Linked DNA regions of Homo sapiens. The protein of the gene in region 1 interacts with the protein of each later gene in a biochemical or structural test. Each region holds a gene or a part of one and is shown in the gene's direction. Other genes may lie near its edges.

Evidence for each region.
Region 2: the proteins of SLCO2B1 (region 1) and SHANK1 interact in a test that uses a peptide from one of them, tested with the Homo sapiens proteins (one large-scale study listed by IntAct).
Region 3: the proteins of SLCO2B1 (region 1) and GOPC interact in a test that uses a peptide from one of them, tested with the Homo sapiens proteins (one large-scale study listed by IntAct).
Region 4: the proteins of SLCO2B1 (region 1) and CASK interact in a test that uses a peptide from one of them, tested with the Homo sapiens proteins (one large-scale study listed by IntAct).
Region 5: the proteins of SLCO2B1 (region 1) and PARD3B interact in a test that uses a peptide from one of them, tested with the Homo sapiens proteins (one large-scale study listed by IntAct).
Region 6: the proteins of SLCO2B1 (region 1) and LNX1 interact in a test that uses a peptide from one of them, tested with the Homo sapiens proteins (one large-scale study listed by IntAct).
Region 7: the proteins of SLCO2B1 (region 1) and HTRA3 interact in a test that uses a peptide from one of them, tested with the Homo sapiens proteins (one large-scale study listed by IntAct).

What each region holds. Positions count from the first base shown.
Region 1 is NC_000011.10:75,157,607-75,161,106, forward strand, and holds part of SLCO2B1 (solute carrier organic anion transporter family member 2B1), read left to right. Parts: intron 1-2,225; exon of another isoform or gene 2,226-2,323; intron 2,324-3,500. UniProt on the Homo sapiens protein: Mediates the Na(+)-independent transport of steroid sulfate conjugates and other specific organic anions.
Region 2 is NC_000019.10:50,717,003-50,720,983, reverse strand, and holds the start of SHANK1 (SH3 and multiple ankyrin repeat domains protein 1), read left to right. Parts: upstream 1-1,181; 5' UTR 1,182-1,578; intron 1,579-3,981. UniProt on the Homo sapiens protein: Seems to be an adapter protein in the postsynaptic density (PSD) of excitatory synapses that interconnects receptors of the postsynaptic membrane including NMDA-type and metabotropic glutamate receptors via complexes with GKAP/PSD-95 and Homer, respectively, and the actin-based cytoskeleton.
Region 3 is NC_000006.12:117,575,012-117,578,511, reverse strand, and holds part of GOPC (Golgi-associated PDZ and coiled-coil motif-containing protein), read left to right. Parts: intron 1-1,040; coding exon 1,041-1,064; intron 1,065-3,159; coding exon 3,160-3,335; intron 3,336-3,500.
Region 4 is NC_000023.11:41,553,055-41,556,554, reverse strand, and holds part of CASK (peripheral plasma membrane protein CASK), read left to right. Parts: intron 1-919; coding exon 920-955; intron 956-2,639; coding exon 2,640-2,836; intron 2,837-3,500. UniProt on the Homo sapiens protein: Multidomain scaffolding Mg(2+)-independent protein kinase that catalyzes the phosphotransfer from ATP to proteins such as NRXN1, and plays a role in synaptic transmembrane protein anchoring and ion channel trafficking.
Region 5 is NC_000002.12:205,300,975-205,304,474, forward strand, and holds part of PARD3B (partitioning defective 3 homolog B), read left to right. Parts: intron 1-489; coding exon 490-727; intron 728-3,500. UniProt on the Homo sapiens protein: Putative adapter protein involved in asymmetrical cell division and cell polarization processes. May play a role in the formation of epithelial tight junctions.
Region 6 is NC_000004.12:53,507,987-53,511,486, reverse strand, and holds part of LNX1 (E3 ubiquitin-protein ligase LNX), read left to right. Parts: intron 1-3,259; coding exon 3,260-3,500.
Region 7 is NC_000004.12:8,283,254-8,286,753, forward strand, and holds part of HTRA3 (serine protease HTRA3 isoform 1 precursor), read left to right. Parts: intron 1-3,307; coding exon 3,308-3,500. UniProt on the Homo sapiens protein: Serine protease that cleaves beta-casein/CSN2 as well as several extracellular matrix (ECM) proteoglycans such as decorin/DCN, biglycan/BGN and fibronectin/FN1.

The sequences.
Region 1 (3,500 bases):
GCTTGAATATTTATCAGGAAAAGAGAGCAAGGGCCACCTATATGCCAGGCCAGCTGCCCCAAAGGCCTTACCTCTTTGAGGTCGTATAGAGGAGAAGAGATTTCTTGTCCTCACTCTTTGCTAGGCTGGTGGCTGAGGTCCCTATAACAAAAGACAGCTTAACAGGAGAAAAGCATACAAATTTATTTGGCTTTTAAAAATTTAATTTACTTATTATTATTTTTACATAGAGATGGGGTATCACCATGTCACCCAGGCTACTCTGGAACTACTGGGCTTGGTAATTCTCCCACCTCGGCCTCCCAAAGTGTTGGAATTACAGGCGTGAGCCACTGCGCCTGGCCCAAATTTATTTAATATAAGTTTTACATGACACAGGGGCCTTCAGAAATGAAGACCCAAAGAAATGGGAAAACGTGTGTATTCTTAAACTTTTTAGTTTTTATTATATTGAATTAAATTAAATTATTTATTTATTTATTTTTTGAGACAGGGTCTCACGCTGTCGCCCAGGCTGGAGTGCAGTGGCATGATCTCGGCTCACTGCAACCTCTGACTCCCAGGCTCAAGTGATCCTCTTGCCTCGGCCTCCCGAGTAGCTGGGATTACAGGCATGCACCACCACACCTGGCTAATTTTTTGCATTTGTAGTACAGATGAGGTTTCACCATGTTGCCCAGGCTGGTTTATTATTTTTTAATCATCTAGCCTAAAATGTCAAAAACTTGTGACTTTTTATGCCAAGTTTGATGAAGAAGTATATAGTTGTGGAAGTATTGCACAAAGAGTGTGTGAGCTAATGGTGATACACTTAGGGGAACCTAGCAAGGCCTGTTTGTTCAGATTCTTCTCTGTGTCCTTGCATCTTCAAAGTTAAGGCTGTTTTTTTTTTCTCCAGGTACAAAGACAGCAACTCTCAAATGAGAATCTTATGACCTATTTCAGGGTGAAAGGTGGGAGAAGGTCAGAGTGGGGTGACTATCCTAGGTTTTATGACCTGCTTCTACTGTTTTCTCAAATGTGGCCAAGGTGCCATATTTGGAGAATAGTGTGTCCTGAATTCCATCAGTAAATACTGTTATATTCACCTTACAAATGGGGAAACTGAGGCTCAGAAAGCTCAGGGATGTGCCCAGGCTCACACAGTGGGCTTGTAGCACATCTGGGATTCCAACCCAGGTCTGAGGCCTTAAAGCCTATTCTCAGCCTCACATTTCCCTGAGATCTGTCCTTTGCTGCTGGGAGGCAGCCAAAGGAGGCAGAATCCTGGGCCTTTCCCACAGAGAACAGGTAAAGGAAGGCGGTCCTTGCAGTCAGGCTGGTCTCTGAAACCTTGCTCCTCATCACCCAGACTCAGGTGGTGTGGAGAAGGCTGACTCTACCCATGAAGGGCAGCCCCTTGAAGGGTGAGTCTCTGACTGACCAGATACCTGGGAAACGAAGTTTGTGGCTGACAGACTTTCAGGAACTTGTCTGACTGTCTTATGAGGAGCTGCAGGCAGGTGGCTGACTGACGGCCTGAACGGACAGCTCTCCTGAAAGACAGTAGCCCGCCGGCTGGCTGGCTTACCAGCAGGTGGACACGATGTGCCTGCATGAGTGATCAGCCAAGTGACCGACTGACAGTCAGACACACAGACCCATTGCGGGCCAGCTCGGGCTGTGGGTCCCTAGCCCCTGGAGCCACCTGGCCTACCTGGGACCCCAAAACTTAGCTGCCCACCTGGGAGAGAGAGGGACTGGGTTTTTTAAACTAGGGCCTGGCTCTCTGCCCCAGGTCCCTTCATTCCCGCAGGCAACCGCCTGCCCAGCCCAGGTTCAGTCCCATGGCCGTCCCATCCTCCTGTCAGGGGTGGCCCCTGACAAAGGCCCCACAGCACAGGGCAGGGTCTCAGTGCCCTTCCACAGGAGGACACGCAGTCCTGGACTGGACCATCCTTCCAAGGGGAGTTCCGCCCTGAGTCAGGGAGGCGAAGGTTTGCTGTCAGCGCGTCAGCAGAGACCCCAGCCCACAGGAAAGGCTCGGAGGGGGTGGGCAGCCTGCCTGACAAGCCCCATTCAGTGACCAGCTGACCCCCAATACATGACTCGTGCTCCTCTCAGAACCCGGAGGAATGTGGCCAGTGCTTCCCTCCCCTGCCCAGAGGCACAGGCTGTGGACTTTGCCCTCCACAAACAGCCATATCTCTAAAGGATAAAGTACTCCCAGGAAGGCTTTGAGCCTTGGCAGAAAAGGCTGGGATTGAAGCTTCAGGGAGAGCCAGAGGTGAGGCTGGAGTGGGAGATCACCTGAGGCAGGTGAGCAGGCTCCATGAGTGGGCAGGTGAGAGGCCAGGGGGCTGGAACTGGGGCTAGACAGGCTGGGGCACAGCAAGGATGCCACCAGTATACCCAGGAAGCTAAGTGGAGGGTCCAGGGTCTGGCCTGGAGGCGGGGGCCTCACATTCTGAGCTGGCCCACAGGCTTCCACCCCTCTCCCCCATCCATTCCTTGGGTTTCCTTCAGAGCTGGGGCTCCAGGTCAAGGACTTCTGCTCCCAGCCTCAGCTCCCGCTCTCTCACCTGGTTGGCTTGGCCCCTTGGTGGACTGGCACTGCTACCTATGAAGTGACTTGGCTAGGTTTGGGTGGGCCAAGACAGAGAAAAGCACTGTGCTTCTTCCCCCTGTCAAACTTGTACAAGGAGCATTGAGTGATGTTGAGTTTAACACTTACCTGGGCTTGAGTCCTGGGACCAATGCTAACCAGCAAAGCTAGTTCCTCTGAGCCTGGGTGTCCTTATCAGAAGCATAGAGATAATAAGACACCAAAGGGACGGAGCTGTGGAGAGGGTTCATGGGCCAGTGCACAGAAAGCCTGTGGCATGGAGCCCAGACTACAGCAGGAAACCCACTGCGGCTGGTGAGAGGAGCTGAGGCTCAGAAATGGTCCCCTCCACCTCCTCTGGGAGCCTTTGCTTTGAACTGCCTTATTTCCTCCTTGCCTTTAAAGTGACTCCCACTGAGTGTCCCATGACACTCCTCTTCCCTAGGCCAATTTCCCGTCTCCTCGTCAGGTGTCAGTTTTGTTTCAACAGTTCCTTGCTTCCTCTGAGTGTTTATGCCCCGCAGAGGGACTCCTCCCTAGCCACACGCACTTCCATTTCCTCAGCCAAATTCCTCAACCTGTTTGTATAGACATTTCTCCAAAGCAAGATATACAAATGGCAGTAGGCACATGAAAAGATGCTCAATATCATTAGTCATTAGAAAAATGCAAACCAAAACCACACTGAGATACCACCTCTACCCTATGAGGATGGCTATAATTGAAAAGGCAGACAATGAAAGTATTAGCAAAGATGTAGAGAAATTGGGACATTGCTGGAGGGAGTGTAAAATGGTGTTGCCACTGTGGAAAATGGTTTGGCAGTTCCTCACATGGTTAAACATAGCATTATTGTATATGAACATATGACCCAGCAATTCCGCTCCTAGGTGTACACCCAAGAGAATTGAAAATG
Region 2 (3,981 bases), on another chromosome or scaffold:
CAGCTGGCTGCATATGCGTGCCTACACAGACATGTGCAAACTCTGAGGAGACGGTTGGGTGTGTCTGTGTGTGATGAATAAGGATATGCAACTATGAGGGGATATGCCCAGTAGTGCACCATAGTTGTCAAGTGAGGACTTTGGAGCCAGCCTACCTGTTCCTGATCCTTGTTACCACCTCCTTACAGCTGGATGACCTTGGGCAAGTTACTTAGCCTCTCTGTTCCTTGGTTTCCCCCTCTGGAAAATGGGGATGGCGAAAGTCCCTGAGCCTGGCACACAGAAAGTGCTCCAGGAATGTCAGCAGTAACTATCCTGGAGGGGAAGGATGGCACGGTGTTGGGCATGTAAACGGGTGAGTGCGAGCCAGTGCAATGGACAGCACGGTGGGTGGGTGTGATGGGAAGGCGTGCACACGTCTCTACAGTGCTGTAACTCCGTTTTGGTGTTGAGAGATCTGGGCATGCATACCGGGGTGAACGCCTGTGTGCGTGTGTGCGCGCGCACGTGCGTGTGTGGTGGGCAAATGTGTGCATGTGCTGCGTGTGTGCCCGGGCACAGGGGTGTGACAACTGCATGTAGCTGGGTGTGTTTGTAGCTGTGTACCCCAGGTGCATTGTGTCTGGGCATGCATGCGCTGGAGAGTGTGTGTATGTGGGGACTCTGCAGGTGCCGTTACAGCTGGTGACTATGCACCTGTGCCTTGGGGAAATGTGGCCTGGCCCAGGTATGTCCACGTGTGCCCTGACCCAGTGCTTAAATGGAAAGGGTGTGTGTGTGTTTGGGGGGACAGGGTGGGAATCTATAGCCTTCACACTTAAATTTGGGGGTGTAGAGTCTGGCAACAAATATTTATTGTGCCCCACTCTGTGTAGGGCGGCGGGGAGCTCTCTGGGAGGGGGTGGTCCTGAGGTGTGTGTGGGGGGGCACCTTATGGGGGCAGGACCCCTTCCTCGGGGTATGGGAGCAAGCAGGGGCGGAGTCAGGATTTGGGGACTCGGAGGTGGGGAGGAGTGGTGGGGGAGGGCAAGGGTAGGGGGCGGAGCCGGCGGTGGTGGGGGATGGGCGAGGTTTGGGGGCGCGGGGAGGGGCGATGTCTCCTCCGCCGGCTCCCGGAGGGAGGGGAGAGGGCGGAGGGAGGGGAGGGAGGGAGAGAGGGAGGGAGAGAGACAGGGTGAGGGAGAGACAGCGAGAGCGAGAGAGCGAGAAGGGTGGCAGAGGAGGCGCGGAGCGGGCGGCGGCGGCGGCGGCCCGAGGAAGAGGAGGAGGAAGAGCAGGCGGAGACGCGGCGCCCGGAGCCGGCCGGACCGAGCCGGGGGCGGGCGAGGAGGGGCGCGGCGGCCGCGGCGGAAGGGGGGGCGCTCTGCGGATGGCCAGGCCCGGCCCGCGGGGGGGGTGAGGTCCTCGGCCCTCCCGCCCTCCCCCCCGGTCCCCGCCCGCCCCCTCCCCGGGCCCGCTCGCCCTCCGGGGCGGTGGGGCATGGCCTGAGGGTCCCCGTCTCCGGGGGGGTGGGGGGTGGGGGGAGGGGGGAGGGGCCGCGGGCGCCGCCGACCGGGACTCAGCAGCCCCGCCAGGCAGGTAAGGGGGTCGAGAACCTGGGGGTTTGGGGCAGCTGCGGGGCCGGGGCCGCGGGAGGGGGCGAGGGCGCCCCGGATGTCCTTGGCCCGGCGCCGGGCTCCTGGCCTGGGTGTGCGGCTGGGGGTACGGGTGAGGTGGGGAGCGTTGCCCTGGGCGACACCAAATTGGGTTACGCCCGGGTCCCCGGTGCCCCGTCCCAGATCGCATCCTTGATGGGAGGGCGCGCCCCCCACCCCCGGCCAGCAGAGCCCCTATCCCGAACCCGCCTCCCGGCTCTCCGGGGCCAAGGGCTCGGTCCTGGTACCCGCCTCCCCGCCCAGCCCGGCCACTCCCCCGCCTCGCCCTCCCTGGCGTACCTGGGCCCCTCCGCCAGGTCACCCTGGTCCCCACTCCCCTCCAGCGAGGGTCTAGGCCCGGGCCTCCTCCGCCCCTTTCGACCCCTCCAGCTCCCGCTTCTCCTTCCAGGCTCCTCCAGTCCCTTTCCACCCCTGTCCAAGCTCCCTGCGTCCCCACCAGGTCTCCAGTCCCTACACCGCCGGCCGGCGCGCCCCCTCGGCTCCCGCCCCCGACTCCTGCTCCCCGGTGCCCCCCGCCCCTCTCCCCGGCCGGGTTCTCCCCCACCAGTTTCCCAGCCTCGGCTCCGGCTCTCTCTCCCCGCCCCTCCCCGCCTCCCTCCGCCTCCATTCATTCTCCCCGGCCCCGCTCTCGGCCACGCCAGCCGCCCCCTGTCCCCCCACAGCCTCCCAGGGCACCCCCTCTCTCGCGTCCTCCACCACCCCCCTCGCCGATTCCTCAGCCCGTCTCGGTACCAGCTGCGTGCCAGCTATTCTTAGCCGCGGAGCGTTTGATTCATGCCGCCCCGGCGGAGCGTGCCCGCTCCCTCCCGCGAGCCCTGAGGGGGAGGGGCCGGAGCCGGCCCGGGGGGGCTGGGGCAGCCGTACGCGCGGGGGGCCCTAGCCAGCTTTTCTTTCATCCCACCGGCCACCCCCTCCGAGCGGGGTTGAGGCTGGGGGTCAGCCAGGGTCAGCCGAGGGGGAGTGTCTGCGGGCCCCAGATCGCGAGGTGGGCTGTGCGGCGGGGCAGGGAGGAGGCAGCCGGGGTCTCCGCAGGGACGAGGTGGGGCGGCGTGGCTGGGTACCTGGAGGGGGAGGGGGCTTCGCAGCGCTGCCGCGCGTGGGGGAGGGGTCCGCCGGCCCTGGGTTAGAGGCTCGCTCGCCCACACCTCCTGGAACTCTCCTCCCACCACACACATTTAGTCTTCCCTTTCCCAACCCCCCAGCCCATCCCCACTCCCCCAAAGTCAGCAGTACCCTCCACTGCTTCCCATCTCCATGGCAACGGTGCAGGAACCGGGCCTGGTGTTGGGGGGAGGGACCAGACCAGACATTCTGGTTTCCGGTGCTGGGGTGGGAGTTGGGGGAGAACAGAAGGGAGGCGGACCCCATTTGGAAGGGGCTCCACCCTCATAAGGCCACCTCAAGGGAGAACAGCAAGGATCTAGAGATGATCCCCCACTCAGTTCCCCAGACCCTCCTCTCACTTCTTAGCCTCCCTCCTAACACCCCCAGTCCTCAGAGTGGAGCCCCTAGTACCCAGCAAGCCAGCCCACCCACCCTGCAGTCCTAGAAAAGAGCTACAGGTCATCTGCAGCCACCCACATCTACCCGGGCCACCACACCACTGTCACCTGGACAGCACTCCCCAGGCCGACCTCCCCACCTACCCGCACACCCTCTCAAGATGCCCCAGTCTCCAAAAGCCACCTCTTGTGGTTCCCTTGGGGACACCCTAGGCCAAATGCTCTGCCCATGACACCCCCATCTCAGTGCCCCTTGCTCCCCTGGGACGGCAGATTCCCCAGCACTATTCGGCATGCCACGCGTTGTCAGCCACACTTGAGTGAAGTCACCAGCTCCACCCGCTCCAGGCTCACCACACCTCCCTCTCCCCCTTACTACATCTCAGTGTCAGCCTCAGCTTCTCCCCAACCCCACCCCCCGGCCCTGGGATGAGGGGCCAGGCTGGGGCCAGGAGGGCAGGATGCCTGTCAGTTTGTCCACCTGTCTGTCCTTAGCTAATTTTAGCTGCATTTTCTGTGGCCTGGCAAAGTGGGCCAGTAGCTCCCGCGGTGATTCTGCGGTTTCTGGGACACGGCCACGCTGGGTCACCAGCAAAGTGGGGCGCAGGGGGCGGGCTGCAAGCGGGGCCAAGGGCAGGGAAGGAGACACATGCCAGAAGCATGTCAGGGACAGGGGTGTGTGCGTGCCAGCGTGGGAGGAGGCGGCAGGGGAGGCCGTGCAGGCCGAGGGTGTGTCCAGCCTCCTTCCTGCCTATCTTGGGCAGTGGGGGTAGGCTGCCCTTGACCGCTTGACCACCGAATAGCGCCTGCGGCCTCTGAGGGGT
Region 3 (3,500 bases), on another chromosome or scaffold:
GACCGGCAGTCTAGAGTTGATACGGCAGCTCCACAAATATTAGAGATCCAGATTCCTTCCATCACTGTGCTCTGCCATTTTTAGCTTATGGTTTCCATCCTCAGGATTTCTTCATGTCTGCATTTCAGGCAGGAAGAAGGATTAATCTAAGGAAAGGGCAAAAAGATGCTTCTCCATGATGTTAGCCTTCTTTAAAGAACTTATTATTAAATCTTTCTCAGTAATTTTTGCCAGCATTTCATTGACCATCCCCAGCTGCATGTCAGTCTCCTATTGGCCATATGGCCACTTCCAGTAAAACTGGAGTCTGTTAATAAGGAAGAAGTAAGAAATGGAATTGGGTACCAACCAGTAGCACATTCTTTTCTTTTGCTCTTAATATATTGTAAGCATTTTTCCTGCCACTGTGTACCACATATGTTTTGAGTGTGTAAGAGATAGCAGATATTTTGTTCCTATATGGGACACAGCAATAAATAAGACAGCTATTGCTTGGCAGAGGCAGGACATGAAATGATGTTGATGATATAATGAGAGTAATACATTTATAAGTTTTATTTGTTTTCAGTTAATTTCATTTGGTTAATTAGTTCCTAGTACTGATGTGTTAAAATTCATGAAAATAATTTTAAGTTAAACTCTTAAGTTTTCTAACTCTGTGAATCTGTGTTAGAAGGGTTTTATTTAACTGAAATAAAAGCTCATAACTGCTTCTTCGAGCTATTTGACATTAACATTCAGAAACAATCTAAATTTTCTCTAGAAAAGAATTTACCTGAAGTTTTAACATTAGAATTTGAAAGAGTATGATGAAAAGAACACTGTACCAGTTATGTTGACTAATTTTGATAAAACAAAAAGTTTTAATCTAATGCTATTACAGTTACTATTGTTTATAGATTGCAAATATATTTGTTCTAATGAACTTTACCCAAATGATATCCAACATGTGGGATTTTTCCTTATAATGACTATACCACTAAATAAAATCATTTGTTTGATCTTTTTCTAATTATAAAACTTTTTTCTTATATCTGAAGTCTGGCCCCTCTGTGGAGGAGCTGGTAAGTATATTGTTTCTGTTTTGCTTTAATATGTCACGCTGAAGTGTTCTTAGTGTTTTATTTGCATATTATATGTTGTCACTCATTGTATTTGAAAATAGCATTAATAATGGCAATTTTTTAATGTTCCAGTACCTGAAAAGTTCAGTGGATGGCCCATTGCTCTTTTCTCACTGCATGTTGTTAAACATTTTTCTTTTGTTAGTGATTTATAGCCATTATTTGCAGAGCCTGTCAATTTTTGACAATTTTTGAGCCTTGTAGCTTGCTCATACCTCTACTTCAAAGAGCAATTGGTTTTCCCACTTCAGGGTATTGAAGATATATCAAGCAGGCTTAGTTTTTAACCCCCTTAAGTTTCTGTTTGAAATTATTTCCAGAAAAGAATGTGCATGTTGGTTTCTTCTTCATCTACTGCGTTACAACTTTTCAAGAGTCTTGAGAATAATCGTATGGCCTTTGAAACAATTGAATTTTGAAATGCTTTAGCAGAAGTTATTTTAGAAAATAACAATACATTTTTAATATTTTTCTCATTACCCCAACCTAATCAAGTTCCAATTTGTCTTATGGCTTTACCTCTTTTGAAGATATAATCTTTGGTATCTAAATGTAAAATGAACATCTTGGGTGTTACCTAGTAACAAACAGGTTAACTAAGAACCAAGAAAATTTTTTTCTGGAAATCTAGAAATGGTTAACTTCAGTTTCCTTCATCTTATTCTTGCTTACCTCTGTTAATTTCGGGCCCAAGAGTTTGTCAGATTCATTAGGGATTTGAATCATTAAAACCCCAGTGAGTGGTAGCTTAGTATGTCTCCCACATTTCATTAATGTAGTATAAATAGCTCATTAAAGTAATTGAAAGTAGGTAATCATCAACATAAAGTTTATTTAGCCCATAAGCCAAAGAAATCTTGGTCTAGGAGTGCTCTTTCAAAAGTTGCATCAACTTTAACATGTCATAAGAAAGATTTTTGTTTGTATCTCCAAACTGGTTTCTTTTGAAACAGATACTTGCCCTTTTAGGACATAGGTTCTGAAATAAGAGTTTAATAATTCCAAAATTATGTTAAAAGGAGGATTCTAGATTGAGTTTTTCGAATCCTTTAAAACCAGTATCTAGAAATTACGTTCTAATCTTTTTTTTCCCAGAAATTGAGTCTGCTAATCTTTCATCTGTTTGTCATATATATAACAAATATTTTTAATCAAAGAAGTGATAAATATATCTAGCATTTAGTAGTTGTCATTAATTTTAGCTTGTATGTGTGTGTGTATATGTAAATATATTTTTTTTAGGATTATCGTATTTATTGACTAGTATTCAAATATATCTATTTTGATGTTGTTCAAAACAGTAGACCAAAGGAGGCACATTAAATTAGTACCAAAATATATTCCATGAATTGCTGAAAATTTGCTTAAATTTGTTTCTTAGCTTCTCAATATCCAGAATAAAAAGGGAAATAATTATGTAAAATAATCAGTGCCCATACAATAGAAACAATACTATTCATCATTTCCTCAAGAGAAACAATTTCTCTGGTGCTAAGGTAGGTTTTTATTTACGTCCTCACAAAAGGGACAAAGGGGGTATAGGGAATAATGTCTTCCACATATTGTGAACAAATGTAACCATGTTTTCATAGGATTTGTGGATTCTGTAAAAGCAGTTCTGCTCAGGATAAATGCAAGTTTTCAGTGTTTACGTGGTTTTTTTGATCTATAAATAACAGTTAAAATGTCTATTGGGGTCCTTATTTAACTCTCAAAAGGGTTTTAGAAGTAAATAGCAGATTCAACTATCCATTGAAGCCACTTTTACTAATATGTGATAACATGAGCTTAGAGTAGACTACTTTTCTTACTATACTCCATATCAGGGTAACCCATGGCGTGCAATTATTTTATCTAGAAGTAGTTCCAAGATGTTATGGTACTAGTTCAAAAGAACTACATCCAGATCTTTGTGTTCCATTTTATAGAGATGATACATTGTTGAACTGTAGGCTTTTGTGCATTTTCAGGAACATGGTCTAGTGCTAAAGAGTTTTTATTTTCATTAAATTATATGCTTTTAAAAATTACATAGGAAAGAGAGCTTGAGGCAAACAAAAAAGAAAAAATGAAAGAAGCACAACTTGAAGCTGAAGTGAAATTGTTGAGAAAAGAGAATGAAGCCCTTCGTAGACATATAGCTGTTCTCCAGGCTGAAGTATATGGGGCGAGACTAGCTGCCAAGTACTTGGATAAGGAACTGGCAGGAAGGTGTGTAAAAAATGGGTATTATTGTACTCTTAAGTGACAAATTGGATATTTAATGAGGTTGACTCTTACTTCTTTCTTTTTTTATTTTTTATTTTTTTGAGATGGAGTCTTGCTCTGTTGCCCAGGCTGGAGTGCAGTGGCATGATCTCTGCTCACTGCAACCTC
Region 4 (3,500 bases), on another chromosome or scaffold:
TGTGGTACGTGCACATATTTTTGTGAATTATAAGCCTTGCCTGGATATGAAAAGCAAAAAGAACTGGCTTCAAACTGCACTTAAGCCACGCTGTTATCACATCTTTAACACAAAGTACTTTATATTTGACTTGAACTTGGAGTTTTAAATTTTTTCAGAACTATCCATTTTGGAATATAGAAAGAATTGTTTTTAACTTATTTAAACAAATGGAAGCACTTAACAGGTGCAGACTGGCAATATTTTGGTTGCTAATACTGCTGTTTATGACCCAGTTAAAATTATTGAGAGTTCTAATAATGCAGCAGTATTCTTCTTTCCTGACTTTTAATTTGCCCTTTGAGAATATATCAACTTTTTTATCAGGTAAAATTGTAAATAATTTAGAAATTATCTCAAATGGAATGATATTCTAAGTATATCGTAAGAGAAATTATGAAAGAAAATTGTCTATGACTTTATTTTCAACTTTAAAATAGGCTACCAAAGGAATTCATTCATAACAGTTAACATTTAATACTTTTAAGATGATGAAAAGCCATATAGCCATTGAATTTTTCAAAATCTAAATGGTTGCAGTGACTAAGTTGAAAAGGGCAACAGCTCCTTTTATTTATTTTTTTTTTTTAATAGGCTGTTTCACTTGCAGTGGCTTTTGTGTTGAAGATGCTGAGTTGTTTCTTAAGAACACATTTTCTCTCTGCTTAAACTTACCTGCTTTCTTCAGCTTGCTGCTAAATGGCCTGGGTTTGACTTTTTGATAACTCAACATTTCTGATAAATGGAATAATGTATATTATCTCTTTACAACTTAAATCTAGCTCATTTTTTTAACCATATTGTAACAGAACACACAAATTACTTTGTACTCTTGAAAAATAAATGAAAATTTTTCTCCTGGGTTGGCTTTATTCTACAGGACTTGCCATCAACTACCCAACCAAAAGGACGACAGGTGAATAGATATCCTCTATAGAAACTTCTCTAAACTGAGCAGCTAATAGCCAATCCTTTATTAACCCTTTCCATCCCATAATGTTTGCATTTTGGACCATAACATTTGAGCATTGAGAGCTTGTACCATTTCATTTTAACACATTACACATGACTAATTCTCTATAAAGAATTTTTCCTCACATCTTTGTAGCTGTAATGGTTATTGTAATTTCAACCTGATAATTTTATATTAATGGTTAAGAATTCAGCCTTTGGGGGTGGCTGTGGGCCTGCCTCTGGCATGCAAAAGAATTTTAAAGGTTATAAAATTCTTAGAATTCTAAGACTAACTAAAAAGTTATTCTTAAAATGCTGATGAACATTTTTAAGCAAAAATTTTCTGAAGTTGAAAGCTTTTTCTTAAATTTGTATTTGCATGTGTATTTCTAAAAGCCATTTGCAATGAAAAATAAGAAAAGAATATAAATTATCTTAGCTTCACATCCTGATATACCTGTGTTAGTTCAAACATGAAAAGTTAAGTGCTGCCTAACACTGGCAAGTAACTTTCAAATTGCCAGCACTTTAGAGGTATAGATTTTAAATGCAAATGCAGAGACTTGTAATTTTATAGGCTGGATTGCTGAAAATAAACAGAAAAATCACACAGTGGTTCCAAAGTCTTCAGGTTGGTTTTACAGTGACTTAAACATTAATATTCAATTTTAATTTCAAGAGATAGAATTTTTATGGGATTTTTATCTTGAAATATGGTATTAAAAATAATCAGATTTAGTGTTAAGATATGTATAAATTAGTACCTGATAGAATTCACCCATAATTTTGTCTTAAGACTGTATAATTGATGGAACATTGGGTATGAATTACCTTATCTTAAAGCATTTAAAAAATAAAATAATTCATAAAATGCTGCCATATAATAAACCCTTGAATGCTAATCTATTTCCTAAGTAAACTCACATATCATAAAACTCAGAGCCTTGAACTATGCATGTCTTGAAGCTCTGTGCTGATTTCAAGTGTTACATTGGGGGAAGCTAGGGTTCAAATTCATTTTTATTCTCTCAGAAGAGTAAAATACAAACCTAAAACCTAAATTAGAAAAAAATGAAGCTTTTTTTAACTTTTAAAAAATTGTTTGAGTTACACTTAACTTTATCAGCAATGTGTAGACACACTGCCAGTTGTCATATAAGCATTCTACAGCAAGATACCAACCCAGAGTTCTTGCTAATTTTATATCGTGTGCTGCTTTAGGGTTAAAACCTATCCTGACTGCTAGTATTTATGGCTTAAAGGCTGCCACGCAGTCATGACAACGTATCCATAATGCCAGCATCACCAATGCAGGTTTAAAAAAGAGCGAGCATACTTTTCTATAATTAGAGGCCTATTCTGTTACAGTAAAAGCATAAATTAAGTCTTTATTTTTATTAAACAAGTATTTCAAGTGTTCCTTCCAAATAAAAACAGCAAAGTTTTGAAGCTATACTCATCAAAGATTACTAGTACATTGTTTCTAGCGGTAGAAGTTTTTTGTGTCGTATTTCCATGCATCGTTTTTGCTTTCACCATCTGATGTCCTGTTTGTATTGTAACTGTTGGTGTGTGGTTATGACATTAGAGCTAACTTCTCTTTCACATCACTATGGCATCCTTTCTTACGAACTCCTGTTTTATAGATCTATGTAAGAGCACAATTTGAATATGATCCAGCCAAGGATGACCTCATCCCCTGTAAAGAAGCTGGCATTCGATTCAGAGTTGGTGACATCATCCAGATTATTAGTAAGGATGATCATAATTGGTGGCAGGGTAAACTGGAAAACTCCAAAAATGGAACTGCAGGTCTCATTCCTTCTCCTGAACTTCAGGAATGGTATGTTTTTATGCGTGTTTTGCTTTGCTTGGTTATAAAAACAAAGCCCTGACCATCCATTTTCCAATTTTATATTATTTTAGAGTGTAAAACCTGTTTGATATATTCCTTCCTTTACGAGCCAAACAAAATTTAAATTAGTCATCCAAGAATTCTATATCTTCAGTATCTAGTGAGATCCTAGTTGCAGAGTCAGGGCTTCATTTTACACAAAAAGAAAGGAAGGTCTGGAAAGAGATTGGATGAGCAGCCCTGAGCCAAGTCATGGTCTCACAGCAGAGCCCTCCACTCCTATATGCTGTTATAATTGTTTTAGAATGGCATTAAAAAAATGTACGTTCTCCTTGCCCTTCTACATGCTTTCATGCCCATCCCATTCCCACCACCAGCAAAAAATGTAGGTGCAGTGCTTCAGTGTCACTCAGAGTATTTGAAGATAAAATGTATTTCACTGTTAGAAGGAGGTAGTCAGAAGCTTTGTTCTTTACCTTGCCAGTCCTTTAAAAATACCTTTTCTGCTAGAAAGTTTAAGCCCTAAAAGCAGGCTAAAGTTAGGGGTTTTAGGCACTGTTTTTAACTGAGAGAAAAGGAGTCACAGATCACTGTATATTTTGATAAAATCTATTTCTGCTATTATTGTTACCGTTTCCTTAGTTGAACTGTC
Region 5 (3,500 bases), on another chromosome or scaffold:
TTTTCTACAAGGACCAACTGTCATTTACCCTTAGGGTAGGAGCACTAAGTATGCATTTCTTGACATTCTCATTCGAGTCATTAGAGGCAGCATCAATCCAAGGACTCCGACTGCATTAATTGGGTAGAAGCAGTTGGGATATTTTGTACTCAAAACTCTCTTCTCACCCTGTTTGTTTCCCAGCATGCAGGCTTTCTGAGCTGATCAAGGTTAACAAGGCAGCTTTCAGAGAGATTAGTGCTTGAACACATATCAAGCCTTTCATACTACCAGCTAAGCAACCGGTTGTCCCCACTCCCAGCATCAAGTCTTGCTCGAAGTAACCAGATTTAGGCAGTCAGATCTTCAAAGGGCGCACGTAACCACATAGAAGGGTAGAACTACAGAGTGCTGTTATTCATTCTTTTGCATTTTACATGTTAGCGTTTCTCTGTATACTAACTGAGTGTGCCCCTGACCATGGGTATTGATTATTTTTTCTCTGTACAGACGGTCTGTCTGATAAGAGCTCTCACTCTGGCCAAGGAGCTCTGAATTGTGAGTCTGCCCCTCAGGGGAATTCGGAGCTAGAGGACATGGAAAATAAAGCCAGGAAAGTCAAAAAAACGAAAGAGAAGGAGAAGAAAAAGGAAAAGGGCAAATTGAAAGTCAAGGAGAAAAAGCGCAAAGAGGAGAATGAAGATCCAGAAAGGAAAATAAAGAAGAAGGGCTTCGGCGCCATGCTGAGGTATGGGCCTGCTTTGAAGGCAAAGTTGGTTCTCATTTTGTCTCTCCTGGTAAAATCACTCCTTTGTCTGTACTCAGAAAAAAGCGCACGCTTTTCCTCGTCTTCAGCCAAATGCATACGGCTCTCAATTCTGTGCTCGTTCTCTTTCTGCAGAGGCAGAGGAGCTTTTTGGGGAAAGTTACAGTGATGACAGGACACTGTCTTAAGTTTGTTGTCAAAGAAAGGTCAACACTATGCCAGGCACGGTGGCTCATGCCTGTAATCTCAGTACTTTGGGAGGCTGGGAGGATTGCTTGAGCCCAAGAGTTCAAGACCAGCCTGGGCAAGGTAGGGAGACCCTATTCTTTTTTTCTTTTTTCTTTTCTTTTTTTTTTTTTTTTTTTTTTTGAGACAGTCGCGCTTTGTCGCCCAGGCTGGAGTGCAGTGGCGTGATCTCGGCTCACTGCAACCTCCGCCTCCTGGGTTCAAGCGATTCTTCTGCCTTAGCCTCCCTAGTAGCTGAGACTATAGGCATGCACCACAACGCCCAGCTCATTTTTGTATTTTTAGTAGAGTGGAGTTTCGCCATGTGGGCCAGGAGTCTTGAACTCCTGACCTCAAGTGATCTGCCTTGTCTGCCTTGGCCTCCCAAAGTGCTGGGGTTTCAGGCAGGAGACCCTATTTCTAAGAAAAAAAAAATTAGCCAGGCACAGTGGTGCATACCTGTAATCCCAAGTACTCAGGAGGCTGAGGCCAGAGCATGGCTTGATCCCAGTAGTTCAAGGCTGCAGTGAGCTATGATTACACCATAAAAGAAAGGCCAATACTTAGTAGAGGCATGGACAATGCCTGCAGTCCTTTGTACCAAAGTGTTATGAAAATAAATACTTCCTCTGACACCACAGGGAAAGTGGGAAGTGGGGAAGCCCTATGTGTTACCTCTGGAATACCTCTTTTGAAGCAGGGGAGTCAGGGTAGATGAACCTCATCCCTCTGTGACTCTAGGTGTGCAGTGGCCGGGCCTCTGGGCACATCACTTGTCACCTCCAGAGGCACTGTGGTACAGGGGAGATGTCACTGGGTCTGGGCTCTGATGCCCAAGTCTGGATCCATGACTCCCCACACATGAGCAATGGGGCTTCACACACATTGCTTAGCTTCCCTGAGCCTTACTTTCCTTACTTTTAAAATGAGGCCAGCATACTTGCTCTACTGACCCAGCACAGTTGTGAGATATGATTTCATATGCTATACATTCATTGACTAGACGGGGCTCAACATGGCACAGTCAGAAAACAGCTTTGTTTCTTCTCTCCCCTTCAAGTATAAACTGTTGAGGCTGCCTCTTCCACACCCTGACATCTCAGCTTTCTGGCTGATAGCTTTCTGGTCACTTTTGGGTAAAAAAAAAAGCAACTTGTTTGTCGGGGGCTAAAATATGCAATCCAATATAAATGAAAGCTTTCTTCCTTTCTGCCTGTTGGACCTGAACCACAAGGAGCATCCTATGGTATGGTGGGAGGCAGGATTCCACCTTCTCCTATTTCTCAGTCTTTGGAACCAGGAGACAAAGACAAGATTCAATAGGATAGGATTTTACTTAACTGGCATTATCTGGTATAATCTGGCCATCAAGGAATCTTTGTGGCTACTTTTGTGGATTTTTTAGAGTGCTCCTTACTATACCAGTCACTAATGTAGGTGATTTTCCCACTGACCTATTTCCCTAAGCCTCTGACCTCAGACATATACCCCTGAGTCTCCTTACCCCGGCTGGTAGACTTCTTGGACAGTGCCAGTTTGAGACAGCTCTAGCTTAACTTACAGCCACAGCATCTACCTGGCTTATTAGAGTTCCTGATCTCCCACCCTCCAAATGATGCAAGTACAGCTTGTTCCCACTGTACCGCTCCTCCTCACCCCACCATAGAGATGTTCCAACCAGCCTTGCATCTTCAGACTTCTCCAGCACATCCCACACCAGCTCTGGGCCTCCTCACTCCAGAAGCACACATCAGACTCTCCCAAGAATGCTGTCATGCATGGGGAAGGGAGGAGGCAGTCAATTTTTGCAAGTCACAAAATAAACAGGTAGGAAGTGGGGTGACAATCTCCTATTATACAATTACCTCCAAATTCCCTAAGGGGTTTACTTGTAGCCCCCTCACTTATTTTGTTGGGTGTTACAGGCAGAAGTACCCCTTTCTATTACTGTCTTTACTCCTATAATTTCTTCTCAAATCAATTGATCACTATACTTCTGTGGGCTGAAGGTGAATGATGGGAGATGATGGTTTAGGGGCCAGTTTGGCCACCTCTTATGAAACCCTTAGGAGATACCTCATTTAAGAATGCTGCGTGTATTTATTACCAATTGTTCTCATTTTGTGATCATCAGCTGAAATTTCTACATAGAAAAGAAAGTTCCATCATTCCATATATAAGTGACATTTAGGGAATACAAATAATCCTCTTAGCAGTGAGCCTTCCCGTTACATTTCCAGTGCTCATGAAATGCTAAGCAAGGTTCCTCATGCTCAAAATCTTGGGAGCGATGTTGCCCCTGGATGTGTTATGACAAGACTTGCTGCGGTCCTGCTATCACCTGGGGTGAGGTTACCCCAGCAGGCCTGATGTCATAATAGCTATCTGAATATTAAAAAACAAAATTTTGGCCAGGCATAGTGGCCCAAGCCTGTAATCCCAGCACTTTGGGAGGCCAAGACGGGCGGATCACCTGAGGTCAGGAGTTCGAGACCAGCTTGACTAACATGGAGAAACCCCTTCTCTACTA
Region 6 (3,500 bases), on another chromosome or scaffold:
TTCATCCTTCAAGTTCATGGCCATCACCCATCACCATCTGAGAGTACTTAGTGCTCAGAGTAACTGAAAGGAAGCATAAATCCTCCTTGCTTTGAACACAACCCAGGGTTTACCGTATGTTCTTGTCCTGGCCAATGCTAATCAGCTCTTCCCCGCTTCTTCCATCTTTAATGCTTGTAAATCAAGCTGCCCCAGTATTAGTCACCACAAAAGAGATAATTAGTAAGTACAAGCTGCTACCTTCATAGATCACTCTGTCTCTGGCTCAAGCTAAGCCAAGAGACTGGAGAAAGCTAACATTACACAGTATGAGTTGCATTAGCAGAACCTTTATTACACAAAGCACGTGAGTCTGAATACTTAAATCAAGAATCTGCACCCTCCCCAGCTGTTGTAAGAACAGCTGTGATATGAGACCAAAGGAAAGGCTACTTACCTACCTTATGAGGTTTTCCTTTCCTGGACTCAAAAACTTATCTTTAGAACCCCAAGAATTTGAAAGTGCAATGGTTTCTTAATGGCATAATCTTGGGATTCAGATATTTTTAAAATACTGTAACCCCCATTGATGGGGCAGCAGAGAAAGGTGCCAGTTTCTTTTACTAGGACATGCTGTGTCCTCCCAACAAAGCCATGGCTTGTACCTTTGCCAGCCATTTGTCCAGCTGGAAAATAACGTTACTATTCTGGCAGGGCACATGGTCAAGAGCATTGCTGCCTCCTCAGAAAAGACCATTTCCAGACCAGCTAGGAACTTCCTTTCCATGCACTGCTAATCAGATACTACCAGCCTGCCTGGAAGTGTTTCATTCAAGTATTTGTTACGTTGGAGCCGCTCAAATGCAAGTTGGCTTTTATTTTTTCCATCACACAGTGTTTCACCAATTTTTGAGTTTCCCAGATCAACCTCTTCACTATGTTTAAACAGAATGATTCCAAGCCAACGCAGCTAATCGGTACAGTAAAACCTCACGAATTCAAGCCAGGAATTTGAACTCTTCCAGCTGAGGACAAGCACTAGCAGTGTAAGTTGGAGGCCTGTTTTCTCATCTAGAAGATGAGGACATAAGGTTGTATAACCAAACTCCTTTTCTACTAATATTAAAACCACATTTCATCTAATCTAAGATGCCACTGACTATGAGAGGTATGTTCATATAACAGCAAAGAAGATGACATTTTAAAATGTGCCATCAGTTAAATAATCCCCAAACACCAAAGATATCCCCATGATGCATAGATTGGTGAACTAGACTCTTGTGGCTTTGAAATCCATTCAGATGAATTTGGCAGCTTCTCCTGCCCTTGGTTGTGTTGCTTGGCATGAAATAGGCAATCCTTTTTGAATGTTCTCAATAACAAAATGTAACACCACTTTTAATTCCCTTGGGTGCATCTTTCTAAGCAGATAAAACATTTGCTTGTCCCTTTGCAAGAAAACACAGAATTGTGATTCTGCTTCTAACAATGAATATGTACTTCATCAATATCCAATTGTTCTGTTTTTGAGGCTTTCTATAACTTTTCATTTTAGTACTGAATCATTACATTCAAATGGCAATTAAACTCAATGGTGTAATACCAAGTATGTAGGCAACTCAATGGAAGTGATAAGGGGTACTCGTGCGACTGGGTTTGCAGTGCTGGGATGGTGACGTCTGCATCATGACTGCCACCTGGCAACAGAAACTTCACAACCCCATCAATCACACATGCATCCTGATTTTAGACATGTTAAAGCATGAAAAGAGCATCTTAGGATGTACAAAATATGGAAATAGCGACAATCTCATGAGAACTGCTTGTAGTCATGTAGATACCATGACGACTTTAATGAATTTGCATTCTAGTACTTTTGGCAAAAAGTACTAAACCCCTGATAAGACTTAATGTCGATCAAACCTCACAGCAATCCAGAAAGTATATGCAAATTTGGAAGTTTAGCCAGGTAAATAAAATTTCCCTAGATCACCCAGCTATGTAAATTTCAGAGCAAGGATTTAGATCTAGACAATAGGACCTTCCATCTTGCCATTTCTATGATTCTATGGGCAGTAAAAATCATGTGTGCATATCACGGTAGACTGACCTTTGATTTCATCTACTTTCAAAAACATGAAGCATCCCTGAAGTAGGATCTCAAAGGGCTATTTAAAATAGCTCAATCATATAGGGTTTTGAGTAATGAATTGATAAGAATTTATAATTAACACATCCATTATATGCAAATGGACACTTCCTAAAGGGGCTCGTGATATGATTTCTGCCTTCACAACTGTGGAAACTGGAGTGGTTACCTGTAGCTACCCTCCCCACAGTAGAGTGAGATAGTTAAATCACCATTTCCTGACCAAAACCTAGCCTGTGCGCTGCAATGACTTGCCGAGTGGCAGTGTTCATGTTCATGGCAAAATATGGACCTAGATCAGCTCCAACCTTGGTCTTCTGAGCCTCGAGAATGTTCTTTTTCAACTTCTTTCTATTGCACCAATAACTTGCTTTTCTCACAAAGTTTGGTTTTTGTGGAGTTTTCTGGATTTTTTTTTATAGCATGGATAGTGAATGGGTAGAGACAAATATGTTTTTGCTAAAAACCACAAAAGCTGTTTTACTCTCTTAATGGTAGACAACATGGCAATGAATGACACTTCTCAGATCATGGGAGCCCCCAACACCAGGGAGGCCCTCCCAGACCAGCCCAGAGAAAGAGAATGGAAGCCACCAAGCTGCCACTAGAGGATAGCAATGCTGAACTCACTCCTGTGGCTTTGTGGTGAGGGTGATTCTGTTTGCATGAACAGTTAAATATGGAATCTGGGAGGAGCTTTATATTTACGTTCAGTGCTCTGGGAACAAAATCCAAAAGAAGAGTGAGGGTGTGACTAAGGGCTTTCATGGTCAAAATAAACACCAGCAAGCAGGAATTACCAAATAGTTGAACATTGCCAGCCTCAAACCCTACTCATGTAGACACCATGGTGACCTGAATAAATTTGCATTCCAGCAGCCAATGTAGAGATTGCTTTAAGAGAATGCAGTGGGCGTCTTTAAAAAATCTCAAATTATGAATTCACTTGGTTGGCAAATGTATATTGAGTACCGATGTGTGAAAAGGGAAGAGAGGATATAGCGGCAGGCAAATCAAATTCCAAGTTCAACAAGCCTATTATACATTCTTCAATTGTATTTGAAGAGGGCTGACTGAGGAATGGCAGCAGAGCCAAAGCTCTTCTTCACCTCCCCGCTGGTTCTGTTACAGCTGTAAAGGTGCCTCCCACTACGGCCTGACCAAAGATAGGAAGAGGCGCTCACAAGATGGCTGTCCAGACGGCTGTGCGAGCCTCACAGCCACGGCTCCCTCCCCAGAGGTTTCTGCAGCTGCCACCATCTCCTTAATGACAGACGAGCCTGGCCTAGACAACCCTGCCTACGTGTCCTCGGCAGAGGACGGGCAGCCAGCAATCAGCCCAGTGGACTCTGGCCGGAGCAACCGAACTAGG
Region 7 (3,500 bases), on another chromosome or scaffold:
ATGTCCCAGCCCCGTAGAGGAAGTGGTGTGTACCGTGTGGCTTCACCCCCGAGCAAGGCCTCTCCTTGCAGATGCACAGGCAAAGCCTCCTCCCCTTCTTCCCACAGGGCCTGCCCCGGTCCCTGCCACCATCCCCAGCCTCTCCTACTTCCCCCATCACAGAGACCCTCTGAGCTGGTTTGGGGGAGCCCTGCCTTCAGAACCTCCCGCTGTGCAAGCTGCCCAATGTCTGATCGCTCACACCGAATCCTGAGGGCTCATCCCAGATTGACTTATATCCCGCAGAAGCAGACTGAATGACTCTTCTGAAGTTTAGAGTGTTTCTCCCATCCACCTTTGCTGGCCCTTTGGTCCCTGGGTGTGCACAGAGCCGGCAAACAGCCTGATGAGGAGGCCCCGGAACCAAGCCTCATTCCACCCTGATAGGGATCAGACGGCGGGTCCAGGCGGACACGGAGCCGGCAATGAGCAGTCACCAGAGGCCGCAGGCCAGGGCTCCAGGGACTTGCTTGTTTTCACGGTACTTTCCCTGAGGCCTCCAGCCTCCCTGTGACGAGGCTCCACTGCCCTAGGCCCGGCCCTGGGGACTGAGCATCTGGTGGCTCATGGGGAGATCCCAGGAGTGATTCCTGCTCCAGCACCGCCTCCCTGCTGGCTGGCTCGGCGCTTGTCTGGTCCAAGCCCCTGTCACTAGGCGTCACGGCCCCTCTGCCCTCCCCATCCCGGGCTCTCCAGCAGAGGTCGTGCTCCTTGAACAGGGGTGTGAGAGCGCGTGACGGGCATATAGCACCTCAGCATCACATCCTCCACACCTGCTGGGAGCTCCCTGGGCTGTGGGCTGTGTAGCCCATGTTTCTCAAAACAGCCCTGGAGGCACCACCCATGCAGGACCCACAGCCCTGGTTGCCACCCTGTCCGGTGCCCCGTGCTGATGGACCTCTCACTGCCCCCTTGGCAGCACACTGACCCCTCACTGCCCTTCCCTCGAGCCCCGGGCCCTGAGACATGTCATTGAGGAAATTATAACTGGATGCACTAAGTGGCACGTTGCTGGCCTTCCAGGAGGTAGGGATGGGGGCAGCATCTTTCTGGAAGGCCCCAGCCACCAGGCTCTGAACCAACTAATTACTGACTCCAGCCCGGCTGGGAGGCCGTTTCTGCCCTCAGAGCCTCCAGTGACTGATGCTCTGAGTGGGTGGGTGAGACCCAGCAAAGATGAGACAGATGCTTTTCCAGCACAGGCCTCCCGGCTGTGACCCCTGACCTGAGGTCTGAGTGTGGGCATGGAGGCCAGTGGGCAGCCGCGGGCATTTTCTGCAGACCCCGCAGGTGCCTGGCCCTGTGAGGCACCCTGGGGCTTCCGCAGGCAAAACAGGTGCAGTTCCTACTCTGGGGCACACACGGAGTGGGTGTGGCAGAAGCTGGCTGCGGATGTGAGTGGACAGATGCTGGGGTCACCGTGTGGGGTGGCCAAGTGGCCAGATGCCCAGGCTGCCTGGGGCAGACCCCTGCTTTGCCCTTTGCCTGCCCGCCTGACCTAGGCAAGTAGTTCAGCGTCTCGGGACTCAGTTTTCCCACCATAAAGACCTGAGAGTTAGGGACGACAGTAGTTTCTTGTGGCTGCCATAACAAAGTACCACAGACTGCATGGCTTAAAATGACAGAGATGTTTGCTCCCATGGTTCTGGAGGCTGGAAGTCCTAATCAAGGTGTCAAGGTCCTAATCAAGCAGGGCTGCTTTCTTCTGGGGGATGTTGGGGGAGTGTCCCAGGCCCCTCTACTGGCTCTAGTGTTTTCCGCAGTCCTTGGTACGCCTCGGCCCTTAGACCCCTCTCTCTGCTCTGTCTCCATCATCTCATGGCCTTCCCCTCTGTGAGACTGGACTTCCCTCCCTTAAAGACAACACAGACACACTCTGATGTCACCGTAACTTCAGGACACCTGCAAAGACCCTGTTTCCAAATAAAGTCACATTCACAGTCACATGGGGTTAGGACTTGGCCGTATCTCTTGGCAGGGATACAGCTCACCACAGCACCCCCCTTGCAGGGTGCCCATGAGCATTCAATGGCCTGCCTGCCTCAGAGGGAGCACAGGGTGGCATTCGCTGCCATCTCTGGTCCTGTGGGTCACAGCGAAGCTCCTGTACTTTGCAGAGACTGTCACCTCCCTGCACGTGCCAGACGCTCCCATCCCTCCATGCTTTGTCTCTTGCTCTCACCTGCCTGCACGTGCCAGACGTTTCCATCCCTCCATACTTTGTCCCTCGCACATTTTCCTTGCTCATCTCTACTAAGCAGCCTCAGGGAGTGAGTACCTGCTCTGGGCTGGGCCCCACGCTGGGGTCCCGAAGGTTCCCACCCTGGAGAAGGTCCCAGGCTGTGTCTGGCATTCAGCCTCCTCCCCTGCTGGATGTGGGGCTGTGGTTTCTACTCAGAGAGCTCTGGTGAGAACTGGGGATTGTTGCCCATCGGCAGACACCAATGCAAACCCAGGCCAGCTCCACACCGTTCACAGAGGGCAGGGCCCAGGCTGGCCTCATCTGTGCCTCTGCACCCCTGCCCTCGGGGTGTCCAGGGCTCGGGTCCTGCATCTGCCTGCTGCCAGCACTGCCACATTTGGGGCTTTAGGCAGCTAGCCTGGGGGTGAGGGTAGAGGGAGGTGGGAATAAGCCTTCTCAGCCCTCCCAGCACTCACCCTGTCGGGATGATCAGGAATCTGCCCCAGCCTCTGGGGAGCCTCCCTTCCTGGGTACCTGCTGCAGCCCTGCAGGATGCTGTGTGTGCAATGGGGCTTTTCCCCTAGGGCCAATTATTGTCCTGTTTGTTGAGAGGCGTTTTAGAGCCCAGGCATCACCACTCGGCGGAGGAGGTGTTGTTGTCCCATTTCCCAAATGGGGAGACCAAGGCTCAGAGAGCTTCACTGACCTGCCCACGGTCAGGCAGATAATAAGTGGGTCCTGGACTTGGGATTAGCATCCTGGTCTGTCTGGCTCCGTGCTCCGTAGTCAGGATGGCGAGTGCAAGCTGGGAGTCATCTGACATGTCGCAGGCAGCCTGTCTCATCTCAGCAAATTGCAGCGAGAGGTGATCATCATCACCTCTTTATGGCTGTGAATGGGTGCAGGCGCCGGTGACTTGGCCAGGTCACAGGGCCAGGATTCAAATGGGAGCTTGAGGGACTCCAGACCTGTGTTCTGTCAGCCACACACTGGCTCTGCTCCTCGCTGACCAGCCCCACCACTGCGCCTGACTCCCCCGCGTCCTAGCCCCACCCTAAATGCCCGCCTGTGTCTCCCTGGCTGCAGACACCCGCTGTTTGGCCGCAACGTGCCCCTGTCCAGCGGTTCTGGCTTCATCATGTCAGAGGCCGGCCTGATCATCACCAATGCCCACGTGGTGTCCAGCAACAGTGCTGCCCCGGGCAGGCAGCAGCTCAAGGTGCAGCTACAGAATGGGGACTCCTATGAGGCCACCATCAAAGACATCGACAAGAAGTCG